Regions from separate parts of the Homo sapiens genome. Here region 2 is linked to region 1. Evidence: fine-mapped expression QTL. A gene starts in region 1. The other region holds a variant in brackets. All regions are shown on one strand. Distances are from middle to middle.

Region 1 (5,377 bases):
TGGAAAAGACAAGGCAGCTTACTGTGGCCAGCATGCCCTCAGATCCACAACAAAATAAAAGGAGGGAAAACTCTCTCCCTATATATATAATACACACACACTCACACACACACACACACACACACATTCACATATAATTTTTGAAAAGGAAGGTGAAATTTTGACATTATTCAAATTTGATATCATCGCTTACCTAAGAAAAATAATGTAAAATTATACTAATTTTTAAAAAAATTTTAATAGGAACATAAAAAGCAGTCGTTTTCCTACATATCAGCATTAACAGTTAGAGAAACAATGGGAAAAGAATTCTATTCACAATTTTAAAACTGAGTACCTGGAAATTAATCTTACAAGAAGTCTGTCAGGCTCAAATAATTAAATCCATAAGCCCAAGAGAGCACCATAGAAAATATTTGAACAAATGGAGAAATACAGTATATTCCATATCTAAAAAGAAATATTAAGAAGATGTACGTTTTTGCCAAACTAATTTATGAATTTGATGCAACTCAAACTTCCAATAGAATTTTGTAAGCAAAATTGATTATAAATGTTGTCTAGAAAAATGAAAAGCAAAAAAAAGCAAGGAAATTTTTTAAAAATAATAACATGGATGCGTATAGGATACTTCAGGCTGAAATAAAGTGGCAATAAGTAAATGGGTGAAGTACTAGGGCAAAAATACACACAGTGATCACTAGACTAGAACAGAGACCCAGAAACATGCCCAGTATATACCAGCAGTCAGCCTAGACAGTCATCCCTGGATCCCCACGAGGGACTGGTTTCAGGACTCCCTGCAGGTACCAAAATCTGAGAATGCTCAAGTCCTGATATAAAACGGTGCTGTATTTGGATAAAGTCTACACACATCCTCTCATATACTTCAAGTCATCTCCAGATTACCTGTAATAGCTAATACAACGCAAATCCCACGTCAATAGTTGTCATTAGAGTGTATCGGTTTTATTTGTATTAGTTTTTGTTGTGCTGTTTTTTTTTTCCTGAATATTTTCCATCTATGGTGATTGAATTGCAGGTGTGGAAGCTGCAGATAGGAAGATCAACCTTAACACTGTTTGGCACTCACATCTGCGGGAGGCCGAGCAGAGACCCAGAGCCCAGGTCTCACAGCCAGGCCGTCCAGAGGGAGCCCTGTTTCCATCATCGAGCAGCTGTGTGACCCTGAGCAAGTTCCTTAACTTGGCTTTGCTTTACATTTCTTCGCCAGTCAAATAAAGATAATAATATCTCTCTTACTGGGTGGTTGTGAGGATTATATAAGTTAATAGATGAAAAGCCCTAAAAAGAAGGCCTGCACATATTAAGTTCTATAGAAGAATGTATTAAAGAAAACAACTAAGTTGGGTTAGAAAAATTAGTTAATTGGGAGGACAATAAATCGGCTCCATTCATGCTCGCACTACACACCCTGATGGAATACCAGGTTCAGCTACAAAATAGAATTACTAAATAATAATAGAGAGCAGATAAAACACGTGATCTTGCAGCAGTGACGTGTTTTGAATATGACGGGGTGTGGGGAGATTCGGGGATGGGGAAACACAAAGCTCTGGGAAATCAAGAAAAGCAGCAATTCCTAGAGTCAGTTGCCCTCGTAACACAGCCAGGAGAGCTCAGTCTATGTTTAAGCTAAATATGATAGAGTGTAACATCTATACAAATGTAAGGGGAAAATCAACAGGTCTGGGTAAAAATAATTTCTGGAATAAGATAAGGTATTCCTGCATTCTCAGTCTTTAGTCTATGAAAACCGTCAGAAAATAAAAACGGGAAAACTAAAATGCCTCCCAAGAATGCCATCCTTTTTTTTTTAACATTAAAAACATTCTCTAAGGAATAGAGTTTCCTCATTACTGCTGTGAAATCCACATGAATACTAAAGAATGTATGTTTTCTCCAAAAAGAGTGTGTGCCTGAACATAAGATTACCACGCACGCTGCGATGAGCTGGGAACACCATCTCATCTCTGCACAGAGCCGCCGTTTCAAAGACGCAAGAGCTGGGAATCTCAGCAAATCAAATTGCACAACATGAAGCGCTGTCTCTATCGCGCGGTTAGCTTACTGCTATCATTTGTGGGAAATACGAGGCGCTAAAATTCTGACACCACATTCCTTGCAGAGCCTTGCAACGGGAAGAAGAAATGGCACGGCGTGAACCCAGTCTCTCAAATGAGTCGGCCAAACCTTGACAATTGATCTAGCGCCACTGCAGTTTATCCCACAAAAGCCTTACCCTAAGTCCAGCGGATCCCCACGCAATCTGAGAGTGCCAGGCAGGCCCCATTATTCCAGGACCACAAAGGGAGCCCGTGCCCTTGGCGAGGACTCCAGGGCTCTAAAGATGACTGGATAGCAGCAGCTGTCACAAAGCCTGTTCCTAGGCATAACAGAAATTGGAAAAGTTTGTTTCCAGTGCCTCTGCACACTCCCCACCCCACCCTTCAACACCGCCTTCCATCGTTCCCCTCCACCCCCTTGCGTGCAGCAGTTTTTGCTGTACCTAAAAGGACTTGTTTTGCAAGTGAAGACTTGCCGCCAGGAGAAGGACGCTGCCATGACAGGCGCTTTACACACGTGTTCTAATCACAGCTATCCTGAAAGACAAACTATGTTCGCATCCTCATTTTACAGAGAAAGACATGAAACCTCTATGAGTGAAGAATTTGCCAAAAGGGGCCCTGCCTCAGCCCCCTGGGCCCTGCCATACTCCAGGAGAGACGGTCAGCACCCTGGGTCCTGGGCAGCCATGGAGGGAGGCCACACACCTTCCGAGGCATCCAGTGCCACCACAGACACAGCGCCTTCTCCTCTGCCCAGACCTGCCCCCTGCTTGGGGCTTTTGGACCCTCTCCCCACATCCAGTGTGCCTACTGTGTTCTCTCCTCGGGAGGACCCTGTTGTCTGCTAAGGTCACAATGACACCCAGTGTGGAGGCAACGTGGGTGGCTGGTGACTCTTTCCTCATGCCACACGCTCAGCACGCTTCCAGGGAGCCCTTGATGGGTGGGCCCAGCGCTGTTCCCACGGCACCAAGAGAGACAAGGTCTCCACCAATACAGCGTGAGCAGGGAGGGGGCAGACGAGGAAGGACAGTTCTGTGTCCCAGCATCAGTGACTGGGTTTTAGATAAGTAGGTCTAGGTCTCCTCTGGCCTCTTCCACCCTCTTATGTATAGATCCATACCAAATTGTTTAAATGCCCTGACTCTTCATCTGTAAAATAGGGCAATGACCGCCCACACTGCTCCTGCTGCCTCTTCTCAACAAGGGGGTTGTGCAGATCCGAGAGGGAAGCCGCACACAGGAAGGTTGTTGAGATGGGAGAGGGAGACCGCGCAGCTTACAGGTAGATGCTGCTTCTGAAGCTGCTGGCGGATTGGGGTGCGCGTCACAAGGTGGAGTTTGCTTTTAGAACCCAAATGACAAAGATCTCTGAGTTATAAGCACCTCTCACCTCAACCAGCAGCAGCAGAGGGGGCTGAGTGGTCATCACAGGGTCTCCTAGGAACACAGAGACGACCTGGCCTGGCCCTGTCCACTTACTGCCGGTGAGACCCTGGCCATGTCACTTAATGTCTGGCAAACTCACTTTTCTCACCTGTAAAATGGGTTCCTAGCCCTGCCTCGCCTGCTTGCTGGGTGGTGAGGATCACAGCCTGGACTGGGAGATGGGTGGGGCGTGCATGAATAGGCAGAGAGGAAATGAAAGGCTGCTCCAGCTTGCCCAAGGGCCAGAGACGGTCCATGCTTGGTGTGCTGGAGTTGGGGCTGAGAGAGAGACAGTGTTATTTTCCTGGAGATAGGACTTCTTATTTCGCTGGAGTACCCAGCTTTGGACAGGAAATCACTTGTTCATTGTTATCAGCCTGGGAGAGGAAATAAGGGCCCACATCTCTGCACTGCTTGCCCTGGAATGTGATTTATTGGAAACACTGGATAACTCATAGATGATAAAAACAACTGAAATGAGGCCCTGGAAGCTGCTCTGGCCTGAGCTCAGCGCAGCCCTGAGGCAGCAGCCGGGCAGGGAAGCCTGAGAGCTGCTGGGGCCGCAGGGACTCGGCCACGTCCAGCCACACAAAACAAACCAAACGTTTCGGGCGATCCTGGGGCAGCATCCTTTCCTCATCCTGCCTGGGCCAGGAGCCTGGGGCTACGAAGTCGTAAAGACTTACCCAGTGCATTCTGTCCAGAATCAGGGGCCCCTCTCAAGAGAAAATACAGCATCACAAAAGTCCACACGGAGGCACATTGGCGGCTGTCATGCTTTGTTGATCCCCGTGACAGATGCTGAAACACCAGCTAGTAAAATGGACACTTTGGGGCTGACATCTGCTGCTGTGCCTGTAATGAGCACTTCCTGTATGCAGGCAGCTGGGTGCCAGGCACAGGAAATCTACACAGGCCACAGAATAATTTGATTTGGGCTTTCTACGGAGTGCGCGCCGTCTCTGAGCTTTCGTGATTTCATCTTCCGGAAGGCGAAAATCATCCCTCTGCTGAATTGGGTTTTGATTTGCTGGTGTTCACCTGACAGGACGCATCTCCCGCGAAGAAGCAGTGTTTGACTCCGTGCTGCAGGGTTGTTTTGTCTCCGAAATGCAAACCAGCTACTTTTTTAATCCCATGGAGACCGTCCAGACACCAGACATTACTATATCCCTGGAATTATTCCCTGGGCAGCCGCAAATGAAGCTGGGAAGAACTGCAGTGGAGGGTGGAGGACGGAGGGTGGAGGGTGGAGGGTGGAGGGTGGGAGGTGGGTGACTGGGAGCATTTCCTGTGGTGGAGGAGCTGATCACACGTACAGGAAGGGAACACCTGGAGCCCTGGCTGGCAACCCTGTCCAGACTGCACTCAGCATCCACAGCAGCACGCACAGGGCAGCAGGAGTGCTTCCTCAGTGCAGAGAGCACCAGAGCTGCCCCACCTTCTCCTAGCCATCTGCAACTACTGGCCCCCAAGGAGAATTAAGAAGAACTCAGAGGAGCTAAACTCACCAAGATTGAGCCAAAGTCCTCAGGACACGCCAGAAGAGCCTCCATTAGCTCTGTCCCAGATCCATCCTAAGGGAACAGTGCAGAGGCAAGAGGCAAAGGGCCAAGATGAGGCCCCAGCACCTTCTTCTTGAACATGTGGGGGCCAGGAGACAAGAGCCACACCCTCACCCCAGCCTGGTCTGCAGGGTCTGTCCTCCCTGCTTGGTTCTTCCCTAAGGCAACTCACAAAGCCACTGCAGACAGCAGGACTGCAGTTTTTGAGCCAAAAGTTGAGACACAGGTTTTGACAATTTAAAAAAAGATTTTTCTCATTAGTAAATATATTTGAGATGTTAGAAAGAGGTTTCA
Region 2 (5,377 bases), 19 kb before region 1:
TTCCAATAAATGTTTAGTTCCTCGCTGTTAAATATGAGCAGACAGCCAAGCATGAAATAGAGAACAAAAGGGGAAACAGAATCAGGAGGAAACACATGATAAAACAAACACAGAAAAATTGAAGAAAGATTTATATACAAGAAATGCTCTCAGACTAGGGAACTATTGAATTTGCTTTTTTTTTTTTAAGGAATACAAGAGAATAAGAAAAAGAAAGTTCTTTAAAAATTAAAATGATGATAGATGAAATTCAAAGGACAAATTGGAAAATAAAGTAAAAGAAATCTGCTAGAGATGAAGAATAACAGAGAAAATGTTAAAGATGTAGAGGATTAGCACAGGCTGTCCAACATCTAACTAATAGAAACATCAAAAAAGAGGATGGATGGAAGGAGATGATCAAAGAAACAATACAAGACATTTTTTCTCACCTGAAAAGCCCCACTGAGTACCCATCGGAGTAAATGAGGGAGGATGCACGCCACTGTGTATAAAATTTTAAACAACCAAAATAAATAAATAAAAGATCTTAAAGACTTCCAGAAAGGAAAAGCAGGTCACATGCAAAGAAAAGAAAGAGAGTGGCGTGTGGATTTCAGCAGCACCAGCTTCTCGAAAACCATGGAGCCTCGCTTCAGCTTTTGATTTCTTCAGCCAGCAAAATGATCACGTTGCGTAGAATAAAGCCATTTCCAGGTGTGCAAGGACTAAAAACACAGTGTTTTAGACTGGACTCAAAAAAGAGCATAAACAAAAAACAAATGAATGAACAAAAGACAGAGAGTACAGGACGCAGAAAACCCAGGGTCCCAGAGCAGGGAGAGGATTCCCGGGACCGTGGCAGACTCATTCCCAGGGTGACAGCCACGGAGCGGGCTGAGAGACAGCAGTCCAGGGTAGGCAGAAGGGGTGGGTTGCCCCTCCACACCTGTGGGTGTTTCTCGTTAGGTGGAACGAGAGACTTGGAAAAGAAAGAGACACAGAGACAAAGTACAGAGAAAGAAAAAGGGGACCCAGGGGACCGGTGTTCAGCATACGGAGGATCCACGATCCACGCTGGCCTCTGAGTTCCCTTAGTATCTATTGATCATTATTGGGTGTTTCTCGGAGAGGGGGATGTGGCAGGATCATAGGATAATAGTGGAGAGAAGGTCAGCAGGTGAACACGTGAACAAAGGTCTCTGCATCATGAACAAGGTAAAGAATTAAGTGCTGTGCTTTAGATATGCATACACATAAACATCTCAATGCCTTAAAGAGCAGTATTGCTGCCCGCCTGTCACATCTCCAGCCCTAAGGCGGTTTTCCCCTATCTCAGTAGATGGAATATACAATCGGGTTTTACACGGAGACATTCCATTGCCCAGGGACGAGCAGGAGACAGATGCCTTCCTCTTGTCTCAACTGCAAAGAGGCGTCCCTTCCTCTTTTACTAATCCTCCTCAGCACAGACCCTTTACGAGTGTCGGGCTGAGGCCATATCTCAGGCTATCACATGGGGAGAAACCTTGGACAATACCTGGCTTTCCTAGGCAGAGGACCCTGCGGCCTTCCGCAGTGTTTGTGTCCCTGGGTACTTGAGATTAGGGAGTGGTGATGACTCTTAACGAGCCTGCTGCCTTCAAGCATCTGTTTAACAAAGCACATCTTGCACCGCCCTTAATCCATTTAACCCTGAGTGGACACAGCACATGTTTCAGGGAGCAGGGGGTTGGGGGTGGGGTTACAGATTAACAGCATTTCAAGGCAGAAGAATTTCTCTTAGTACAGAACAAAATGGAGTCTCCTATGTCTACTTCTTTCTACAGAGACACAGTAACAATCTGATCTCTCTTTCTTTTCCCCACAGTAGACAGAAGGGCAGAAGGCCTGAAGGAGAAGGATCCAACGTGAACAACAGCAGAAACTAACGAATCAGTGCTGGGAAGGTAGCAGCAGTGGTCACATAGTTTTTTACAATCTCTTCAAATCGCCAATAAAAACAGTAACTTGATAGCAGAACCAAATCCAAGCAGATAACATCTAAAACCACGCCTGGCGATGAAGTGCA[T/C]TCGTGTCCCAGGGCTAGTGTAACAAAGTGCCACAAACTTGGCAGCTAAAATGATGGATATTTCTCTCTCACCGTCCTGGAGGCCAGAAGTCCAAAACCAAGGGGTTGGCCTGGCTGGTTCTTCCCAGAGGCTCTGAGAGAGACTATGCACACACACCTCTCCTTTAACTTGGCAACCCTTGACTCTCCTTGCCTTGTAGATGTACCACTCCAATCTCTGCCTCCATCCCTGCGTCTCTGTGCCAAACCCCCCTCTCCCTTCTCTTCTAAGGACACCAGTCATTGATTTAGGGCTGCCCTAAATTCAGGCGACCTCAATTGAATTGCATCTGCAAAGACCCTGTTCCACGTCAGGTCACATTCCCAGGCACTGGCAGTTAGCACTTTGACATTCCCCAAATTCCGATCTTTGCGGCCTCGGCTCAGTGGGACCGAGGACAGTGGGACCATCTTTGGGTCGGTGGGACCCCACCAGGCTCCCTTGGACTTCCGCTTGTGGTGCCACAGGGAAGCTGTAACCGGGCTGAGAGCCAGGGAACTATGGGGCGCACACCTCCTCCTCTTCCTTGGAGTCTTGCACTACCTGTTGTTCACACCTGAAATCAGTTGCCTCATAAATGTTGTCCAATTTTATGGTTGTTTAATGTGGGAGGGTGAGTCCAGGACCGAGGACTCTGTCAGAGCTGGAGACCAAAGCCCACCCAATATCCCTGCAGAAGCTCCTTTTCACCTGAGCTCAGCCAGAACAGGCTTCTATTGCTGGCAGCCAGGAGCCCCGCCTGAGCCGCGTGATAAATAATGTCCTCTAGAACCTCCCTGGAGGCAGGTTCCAGGGCACCTCCTGTGGCCCCTTGGGACCCATGGATCGCACAGAGTGCAATTCAGCAGGGGAAGTTTTCTGTACGGAAGGAAAGATAGAGAGAAAATGTATATATTAGGTTGGTGCAAAAGTAATTGCAGTTTTTGCCACTGAATGTAATGGCCTATCCTCCTACAAGGCCGAGTTTAGGGAGACATTTCAAAGATCCAGAGCAACAGATTCCACCCTACAGAATTCATGGATAGTCACATCCTGGGAAACCATGGAGCTATCGCGAGGGTCCCACGAATCCATGTGATCCTAAGAATTCGCTATAGACTCAATACTGGGCTGTTTCCAGGTATGCACAGAGGCTGCTGCATTTTATAAAATAAAAATCCATTTTAAAACTATAAATAAATGCACGATGGTTTTAGTTTCCTTTATGCTTTATTCTCAATCAACAAATGTTAAAACGTGGCCAGCAATAAGTGGGGCTTTGGGGTCGGGGTACTGAAGGTTTTTGAGATCATGAAGGATGCTTTACCTTCTGCATCAGGAAGTGCTGACCTGGATGCGCAGGTGGGGGGCAGCTCGGCACCCCCCACCTGGAGATGGTTTCTATCCACCTTTAGGGTGCCCTGAGTACCCCTGCTCGCTGAGAAGAATCTGGGATGCAGGTCGTGGGCAGCTTGGCACTCCCCCCACCGAGATGGTTTCCATCCACCTTTAGGGTGCCCTGAGTACTCCCTGCTTGCTGAGAAGAATCTGGGGTGCAGGTCGTGGGCAGCTCAGCACCCCCCACCCGAAGATGGTTTCCATCAGCCTTTAGGGTGCCCTGAGTACCCTCTGCTCACTGAGAAGAACGTGGGGTGCAGGTCGTGGGCAGCTCGGCACTCCCCCCACCCGAGATGGTTTCCATCCACCTTTAGGGTGCCCTGAGTACCCCCTGTTTGCTGAGAAGAATCTGGGGTGCAGGTTTCTGTGCTGTTCATGAAAACAGGAGTCTATGCCTTTATTAGCAGTGGCACTGAGGGAGGCGGCCGATATCCCCTCACGAAAACTAAAGAACTCATCCGGAACGTCTTGCTGCGGAGAAGCCATCCCACCTCTCCTTACAGGCACCCACCAGTAATAAGCCCCCTCTGGAAAATCCTGGCTGTGAATTCCACTTGATGTGTCATGCCTGTGTCTAGTGCGCGTACCATCAAAAAACGTCGGCACATCCAACTCTTGGCAGCTGAAAGCTTACACAATGCAAGAAAAGGAAGGCCTTTCCTGTGAACTCGCGTGAGGATTTGCCTACCTATCGTGGCTGTGTTTGACTCCTGCACACCTAGAGAGCTACGCTGGGGCGGGGGTGAGGCGCTGACAGACCCACTTTGCAAAAGCCGCCCCCACCAAGTGGCTGGATGCTGAAAGGACAGGCGGAAGGAGGGTGAAAGGACGGGCAGAAGGAGGGTCTTCTCTCTAGAGATAGGGCACTGGAATCTCAGAGACAGTCTCTTCACTTATTTACACCTCAGTTTAAAAAAGACGGGGAAAGAAAAGACCAGACCATGGATAGAGAAGGGAAGAAGGAAAGAGGGAGATCGAGGGGAAAGGCAGAGACAGCAGAGGCAAGACAAGGGGAAGCCTGGGGGTGAGTGAATGCTGGAGAGGGAGGGCTGGAGAGAGCAGCGCAGCCTCAGGGAGAGCAGGCCCGCCACCCCTCTCCGCTCCACTTCCACTTGCAAAGAGACCCGGGAGGCCTCAGGGCAGCAGCCACTAGACCCAGGTCTGCCAAGCCCTGTCCACCTCAGAGGGTCTCGGGAATTCTATGATTGTCCAGACAAGGCCTGTCCCAGCAGAGACCCTGGCCAGACCGAGGAGGGGCCCGGAGGGCAGGAACCCCGAAAGGGCCCCACAGCCCCACTCGCCAGCATCCCTCACCCGCCCCTGGGGTCAGCCCTGCAGCAGCCTCGGGGCTCAGCTGTGAAGCAGGGGTCCCACAGTTCCTGCAGGGGAGCTCTCAGGATTCGTTATTTGCATTTTATTTACACGTACGTGTCTTCTTCAGGTGGCCTCACAGTGTATGACTTACGCCTTTTCCTGCTCTTGAAAAATGGGTTTAAAATGGGTTTACATGTATTATTCTCAACATATCAACTCCCAGAAAGATCTGGTCTGCTCAGTGTGGAAGGAAAGGCAAGGGCAGCTTCACCAGACTCCTGATAAGACCCTCAATCATCTGCTTCCAACTCAGCTATTCAGTTACACACATGGATTCTTCTCCAAATCGCTAGCATGGCTCCAACAGGAATGTGGCTGCATGGTGCCAAGGTCTCATTCCTCCCGAGCCAGCACCACCAGCGTTTAGGGCCATGGCGCCCGGCTCCACGCTGCTCCTCCATCCTCTCAGAGACCCTGTCGCAGTCCCACTGCCCTCGCCTTCTCCAGGCAGGCACTGGCACAGGACTGTCCACCACCCAACAATGGCCTCACCTACCCGGGATGGCCTTACCTGCCTGCGATGGCCTCACCTGCCC

Alleles and levels. Positions count from the first base shown, and alleles are read on the strand shown. Sizes are in standard deviations (SD) of each study's normalised expression.
As copies of C replace T in region 2, the expression in thyroid of the gene that starts at base 2,995 in region 1 goes up (large effect, 2.1 SD a copy in GTEx).

Evidence for each region. PIP is the estimated chance that this variant, and not a neighbour inherited with it, causes the effect.
Region 2: its variant is fine-mapped to the expression of LINC01250 in thyroid (GTEx, PIP above 0.99).

What each region holds. Positions count from the first base shown.
Region 1 is chr2:3,123,032-3,128,408 of GRCh38, forward strand. It overlaps LINC01250 (long intergenic non-protein coding RNA 1250), which reads right to left and starts at 2,995. Exons shown (of 7, transcript NR_110228.1): 1 at 2,796-2,995; 2 at 2,531-2,624; 3 at 2,264-2,407. RefSeq lists a silencer at 4,376-4,540.
Region 2 is chr2:3,103,576-3,108,952 of GRCh38, forward strand. All of the region lies in intron 3 of LINC01250 (long intergenic non-protein coding RNA 1250), which reads right to left. Among named protein-coding and RNA genes, the nearest start is that of LINC01250, 20 kb to the right of the region's middle. RefSeq lists enhancers at 945-1,652, 5,120-5,377. The variant T/C (reference allele first, on the strand shown) is at 2,051.